2 linked regions of the Homo sapiens genome follow. The protein of the gene in region 1 purifies or fractionates together with the protein of each later gene. This does not show direct contact. Each region holds a gene or a part of one and is shown on either strand. Other genes may lie near its edges.

Region 1 (3,657 bases):
TCTTTTTTAAAATTATTGTATCACATTCTAACATATGCCATATTTTATGTCAACTTCTTTTCTCCATTGTTGGGCATTTAGATTGTTTCCCACACTTTATTATTCTTGATAATTTTGCTGTGAATTGAATACAGCTCCCTGTGTGTATTTAGATGGCTTTACTTTTTAAATTATAAAAGTAATATTTTCTTGCCAAAAAAATCAGCAACTATAAAAAAGGAAATAAGTTTACTTGGTATCCCACCACACTGAGATAATAATTGTTGTAAATTTTTTGGTATGTCCTTTTCATTTTTTTTGAACTCTACACATATCTAATAATAATTCCTTTTGCAATGAGCCATTCAGATAGTGGTGCTAATCTTTTTTTTTTTTTTTTTTTTTTTTTGAGACAGAGTCTTGCTCTGTCGCCCAGGCTGGAGTACAGTGAGCAGAATCTCAGCTCACTGCAACCTCCGCCTCGGGTTCAAGCGATTCTCCTGCTTCAGTCTCCTGAGTAGCTGGGACTACAGGCGCATGCCACCACGCCCAGCTAATTTTTGTATTTTTAGTAGAGATGAGGTTTCACCATGTTGGCCAGGATGGTCTTGATCTCCTGACTTCGTGATCCACCCGCCTTGGCCTCCCAAAGTACTGAGATTACAGGTGTGAGCCACCGCGCCCTACCAGTGGTGCTAATCTTTCAGTGTGGAGGCACCCTGCTCCATTTGGCCCTTGGATGAGGCAATGTGTATATGGTAGCTAATGGTGTGGACTCGGACTCTATGCCCACTCCCGCCATGTGACCCTGGAGAAGTTACATAAACTCTCTGGGCCCCAGTGTTCCCTTTTGTTAAAGTGGGACACTCAGAGAGATGGTTAGAACTATGTGGAAATGACAAACAGAAGTTAATACAGGTAAAGTGTAGAACAGCCCCCAAGTGCATAGGAAATGCTGCTATTGCTATTTCCTTAGCTGAAAATAGGTGAATTTTTTTTTCATATGTAGTATTGCAGAAACTTGGAAAAACTGTCTGGATGGTGCAACGGATTTTAAAGAGGTAAGCAGTTAATAAAGCTGATGAGTAACTGGACTTGGGGTTTCTAACTGCTTTAAAACATGTTTGTTGTTCTTTTTTATTTTTCCCCGAAACTTTCAGTTAATTCCAGAATTCTATGGTGATGATGTGAGCTTTCTAGTCAATAGCCTGAAGTTGGATTTGGGAAAGAGACAAGGAGGACAGATGGTTGACGACGTGGAGCTTCCCCCTTGGGCTTCCAGTGAGTCCCCCCTTGGAGGTGTTGTATTATAGACATGCTTTACCAAGTAGTGCAATTTCAGTAATTATTTTATTGCTTAGATTTTTAAAAATCACAATATAATTCTCTAAATAAGGATATATGAGCCCTATTCCATATCAGAAGTATTCTATGAGTCTGTGATGTAAAAACATTAATATATATTTGAGAGACCTTAATGTGAAAATGATTCTTGCCACTTTTTTCCCCAAAAAACTTACATTTCATATGATAGAAAAAGAAAACTGCATTAAGAAATATGGACCTCTTGCCTGTCCTAGAAGCTTTATATACATATAGATAGACAAGAGAAATGGGAGGAAAAAAATGAAGACTCCATGATTTTTCGATTGAGTCTAATCTAATAGGTCCCGAGGACTTTCTCCAGAAGAGCAAAGATGCATTGGAAAGCAATTATGTGTCTGAACACCTTCACGAGTGGATTGATCTAATATTTGGCTACAAACAAAAAGGGAGTGATGCAGTTGGGGCCCATAATGGTATGTAATATTCATTGAAATTTTATTTAGCATTGGGTGAATATTTAGCATTATTCATTTTCATTGGAAAATGAAAGCAAACAATACCAACAAAAAAATGAGGCCAAAGCAATTAGTCTTATTTCTTCAGTGGAAGCATGTTCTGTCAGACTCCAGCGTCCACTGGCTGCATGACCCTGGATCAGATATTTTTTTGGTTTTCTTTTTGAGATGGAGTCTTGCTCTGTCACCAGGCTGGAGTGCAGTGACACAATCTTGGCTTACTGCAACCTCCGACTCCCTGGTTCGAGTGATTCTACTGCCTCAGCCTCCCGAGTAGCTGGGATTACAGGCACCTGCCATCATGCCCAGCTAATTTTTTTGTATTTTTTTTGGTCGTGACGGTTTCACCATGTTGGCCAGGTTGGTCTCAAACTCCTGACCTCAGGTGATCTGCCCACCTCGGCCTCCCAAAGTGCTGGGATTACAGGTGTGAGCCACTGCGCCCAGCCCCTGGATTAGATATTGAGTAACTGACAAGGAGGGAGGACTTTTGCCCAAATAATACCAAATTCATCCTGGCCCCAAGAGGTCTTTTTATAAAGTCTTCTAATTTTAGCATATACTCTACATCCCACTGAATAATTTCAATTAAAACTCTATTACAGTGTGATAGAACAGTGGCCTCAATTCCTATGGAAGACCCAGAGTTTCTTTTCCTTTTCTTTTCTTTTTTTTTTCTTTTTTTTTTTTTTTTTTTTTGTTTGAGACAGAGTCTTGCTCTGTCACCCAGGCTGGAGTGCAGTGGTGCAGTCTTGGCTCACTGCAACCTCTGGCTCCTGGGTTCAAGCAATCCTCCTGCCTCAGCCTCCCAAGTAGCTGCCAGAGTTTTTTTTTTTAATTTAACAGAAAATAGCAGCAATATACCTTCTCTTCAGTTTCAATGCTTATCTTCTTCCACGTTTCTCATGTGTGTTTTCTTTTTTTAATAAATGAACTCACATATAATCCATATCGCCCATGTTCATAACAAGGAGCTGTAGCTGGAAATTCAGACCTAATTTTTTACATGGAAATTCCGTCTTATTAATTCTATAAGTCATGCTTCCTCTCAGGAGAAAACAATGCTGACTGAGATGACAGGTCCTCTACCTGACAAGTAGATTTTTGTTCATCTGAAGATAATATTCAAGTTGGTATTTACTGCAGTTGGATATTAGTCTGTTTTGCAAAGTGAATAGCAATTTCTTTGAACATGAGTTTTAAGTTGTTGCATTGTTTAGGTTCTAAACAGTGTATATTACATTGAAATAGCACATCTTTCAATAGTGTTTTGTATGTCTTTTTCAGTATTTCATCCCCTGACCTATGAAGGAGGTGTAGACTTGAACAGGTACTTATATGTCAATAAGGAGTTTCTACTTGAGTTATAAGATATGTCTTTATCTAAATTATTAATGTATTTATTTGAAGGTTGAGGTATGGAAATTTTAAAATGAATTCTATCTTGCTTTCACTGTTGTGTTACTGAGCATCAGAAAATATTCTGAAGGTCTATAATGAGGTTTAGACAATCCTGGTACATAGTTGCTGTCATTATTTGAGGGTTAGTCCCTCCTATTGATCAGTACTATTTGAAATGCGTGCTTTCAAGGAACTCGAACCTAGTGGTTCACTGCATTATTTGTGTTCTGTCCCAAAGCATCCAGGATCCTGATGAGAAGGTAGCCATGCTTACGCAAATCTTGGAATTTGGGCAGACACCAAAACAACTATTTGTGACACCACATCCTCGAAGGATCACCCCAAAGTTTAAAAGTTTGTCCCAGACCTCCAGTTATAATGCTTCTATGGCAGATTCCCCAGGTAAATTTTGTAAAGAGAATAAACGTGAGCACCT
Region 2 (3,657 bases), on another chromosome or scaffold:
TTCCTGAGCATAAAAGTAGAACATACTTGTAGAAAATTTGGAAAATCCAGAGATAACCAACATTTTTCTTCCTGTATTGTCTTACTATAGTTCTTCCTATATTCCTAAATTACATAATGAAATAATGCCATATGCATGCTTGTACCTTGAATCTTTTTACTTAATGTACACTGTGAGAAGTTTCCCATAGCATTATAATTTTATCTTTTTTAATAATTTCTGTAGAGACAGGGTCTGGCTATGTTGCCCAGGCTGGTCTCACACCCTTGGGCTCAAGTAATCTTCGCACCTCAGTCTCCCAAAGTATTGGGATTACAGGAATGAGCCACCATGCCCAGCCATAATTTCTTCTTAAACATAATTTTTAGTAATTACATAGTAACCCTGGTGTGTTTTTCTGTTTGTAGTCATTGATACACCTGAGGATGAAGAGATTCCAAAGGTTTCGACTAAGTTGTTAAAAGAGCAGTTTGAAAAGTCTGCCCAGGAAAAGATCCTTTATTCTGACAAAGAGATGACAACCCCAGCCAAGCAGATTAAGGTAAAGTCATTTCTTTACACAGAAACATACTAAGTGTAAGACCAAGCTTAAATGTGTAACATTTTCAAATTATTGAATACTTGAGGTGGCTTTTCAACAAAAAAAAATTCTGAACTGGCATTTATTCAGTTCTGTAAGGAGAATATTGACCTGCATGCAAAAGGAGGTAGAGTAAAAACTTTTCTCACTAGCAGAAAATAAGGGATGAAAAAATTATATATGTTCTAAAGTCTAATAATTAACATTAAAGTAATTAAATCAATTTTAAATGCCAGATGCTTACTCTGTTCTGTTTTAAATTCCAAGGAAAATGAAACAACCCTCAAAAGTACTTTAAGACTTTTACTGTTTCCCTCTAGATTACTCTGCATACCACATTAAGGGAAAAAGAATCACGATTATGTGTAAATTTTAAAATATTGAGTCCTTGTTGCATTGAATAGCAAATATAACTTTACAAGTAAAAATGGATTATAGGAGAGATAGTGACAAATATTGACTATTATTCCTAAGTTGGTCTTTAAATGAGTATATCACATATTGTTCCCAATGGAGATATCATAGGAGGGTCCAGGTTACAGACCAATGAAGGGCAGTGCCTAGGAAGCCTCTGCCACTACACTCACCTTTATAAGATTTGATTTTCTCTCCCCTAAAGACTGAAAGTGAATATGAAGAGACTTTCAAGCCATCATCAGTTGTGAGTACCTCTTCCACTTCTTGCGTTTCAACCAGCCAGAGGAAGGAAACATCAACTACAAGATATAGTGATCACAGTGTCACTTCCTCAACTCTGGCACAAATTAATGCTACTTCTTCAGGAATGACAGAAGAATTTCCTCCTCCCCCACCTGACGTACTTCAAACTTCAGTAGATGTGACAGCATTTTCCCAGTCCCCTGAACTGCCCAGTCCTCCTAGAAGACTACCAGTCCCCAAAGATGTATATTCCAAGCAAAGAAATTTGTATGAATTAAACCGTTTATATAAACACATCCATCCTGAGTTAAGAAAAAACTTAGAAAAAGATTATATCAGTGAAGTTTCTGAGATTGTTTCTAGTCAAATGAACTCAGGGAGTTCAGTCTCAGCAGATGTGCAACAAGCCCGGTATGTTTTTGAAAACACAAATGACAGTTCTCAAAAAGATCTGAACTCAGAAAGAGAATACTTGGAATGGGATGAAATTCTGAAGGGAGAGGTGCAGTCCATTAGATGGATCTTTGAGAATCAACCATTGGATTCCATCAACAATGGCTCTCCTGATGAAGGTGATATTTCCAGGGGCATTGCTGATCAAGAAATCATTGCTGGTGGTGATGTGAAATATACCACATGGATGTTTGAAACCCAACCCATCGACACACTTGGGGCTTATTCTTCTGACACTGTAGAAAATGCAGAGAAAATTCCTGAGCTAGCCAGAGGAGATGTCTGCACAGCTCGGTGGATGTTTGAAACAAGGCCATTGGACTCAATGAATAAAATGCATCAAAGTCAAGAAGAATCAGCGGTAACTATCAGTAAGGACATAACTGGGGGGGATGTCAAGACTGTGAGATACATGTTTGAAACTCAACATCTAGATCAACTTGGACAGCTTCATTCAGTGGATGAGGTTCATTTACTGCAGCTTAGGTCTGAGCTCAAAGAAATTAAGGGAAATGTTAAAAGAAGTATAAAATGTTTCGAAACTCAACCATTATATGTTATTAGAGATGGTTCGGGCCAAATGCTGGAAATTAAAACTGTTCACAGAGAAGACGTTGAAAAGGGAGATGTAAGAACAGCACGGTGGATGTTTGAAACACAGCCGTTGGACACAATTAACAAAGATATCACAGAAATTAAAGTTGTCCGAGGAATATCCATGGAAGAAAATGTCAAAGGTGGGGTGAGTAAGGCAAAGTGGTTATTTGAAACCCAACCTTTGGAGAAAATCAAAGAGTCAGAAGAGGTCATCATTGAAAAGGAAAAAATAATAGGTACAGATGTCTCCAGAAAGTGTTGGATGTTTGAAACCCAGCCATTAGACATTCTAAAAGAAGTTCCTGATGCAGATTCTCTACAACGTGAGGAGATAATAGGTGGTGATGTACAAACTACTAAGCATCTATTTGAAACACTTCCAATTGAAGCATTAAAAGACAGTCCTGATATAGGAAAGCTTCAAAAAATCACTGCCTCTGAAGAAGAAAAAGGGGATGTTAGGCATCAAAAATGGATTTTTGAAACCCAACCTCTGGAAGACATTAGAAAAGATAAAAAGGAGTACACACGAACAGTGAAACTTGAAGAAGTTGACAGAGGAGATGTGAAGAATTACACACATATCTTTGAATCAAACAATTTAATTAAATTTGATGCATCACATAAAATAGAGGTGGAAGGAGTTACAAGAGGTGCTGTAGAGTTAAATAAATCTCTCTTCGAGACAACACCACTGTATGCCATTCAAGATCCCCTTGGAAAATATCATCAAGTAAAGACAGTCCAGCAAGAAGAAATCGTAAGAGGTGATGTAAGAAGCTGTAGGTGGCTTTTTGAAACAAGGCCCATTGACCAGTTTGATGAAAGCATTCATAAATTTCAAATAATTAGAGGAATATCTGCTCAAGAAATACAGACTGGAAATGTGAAATCTGCCAAATGGTTGTTTGAAACCCAACCTCTTGATTCAATTAAATATTTTAGTGATGTGGAAGAAACAGAAAGTAAAACTGAACAAACTAGAGATATTGTTAAAGGGGATGTCAAAACCTGTAAATGGCTTTTTGAGACCCAGCCAATGGAGTCTCTTTATGAAAAAGTTTCGTTAATGACCAGCAGTGAAGAAATTCATAAGGGAGATGTCAAAACTTGTACTTGGCTCTTTGAAACTCAGCCACTTGATACCATAAAAGATGACTCTGAAACAGCAGTCAAATTGCAAACTGTAAAACAGGAGGAGATCCAAGGTGGGGATGTTCGTACAGCATGTTTTCTTTTTGAGACAGAAAATTTGGACAGCATACAAGGAGAAGAAGTGAAGGAAATCAAGCCTGTTGAAATGGATATACAAGCTGGAGATGTTTCCAGCATGAGGTATAAATTTGAAAATCAGTCCTTAGATTCTA

Evidence for each region. The genes of interacting proteins can lie anywhere in the genome.
Region 2: the proteins of NSMAF (region 1) and XIRP2 purify together in Homo sapiens (affinity purification with mass spectrometry; one large-scale study listed by BioGRID and IntAct). This does not show direct contact.

Annotation. Positions count from the first base shown.
Region 1 is NC_000008.11:58,597,353-58,601,009, reverse strand, and holds part of NSMAF (protein FAN), read left to right. Parts: intron 1-988; coding exon 989-1,040; intron 1,041-1,139; coding exon 1,140-1,260; coding exon of another isoform or gene 1,261-1,278; intron 1,279-1,513; exon of another isoform or gene 1,514-1,646; coding exon 1,647-1,778; intron 1,779-3,086; coding exon of another isoform or gene 3,087-3,107; coding exon 3,108-3,150; intron 3,151-3,459; coding exon 3,460-3,623; intron 3,624-3,657. UniProt on the Homo sapiens protein: Couples the p55 TNF-receptor (TNF-R55 / TNFR1) to neutral sphingomyelinase (N-SMASE). Specifically binds to the N-smase activation domain of TNF-R55. May regulate ceramide production by N-SMASE.
Region 2 is NC_000002.12:167,241,370-167,245,026, forward strand, and holds part of XIRP2 (xin actin-binding repeat-containing protein 2), read left to right. Parts: intron 1-407; coding exon 408-541; intron 542-1,199; coding exon 1,200-3,657.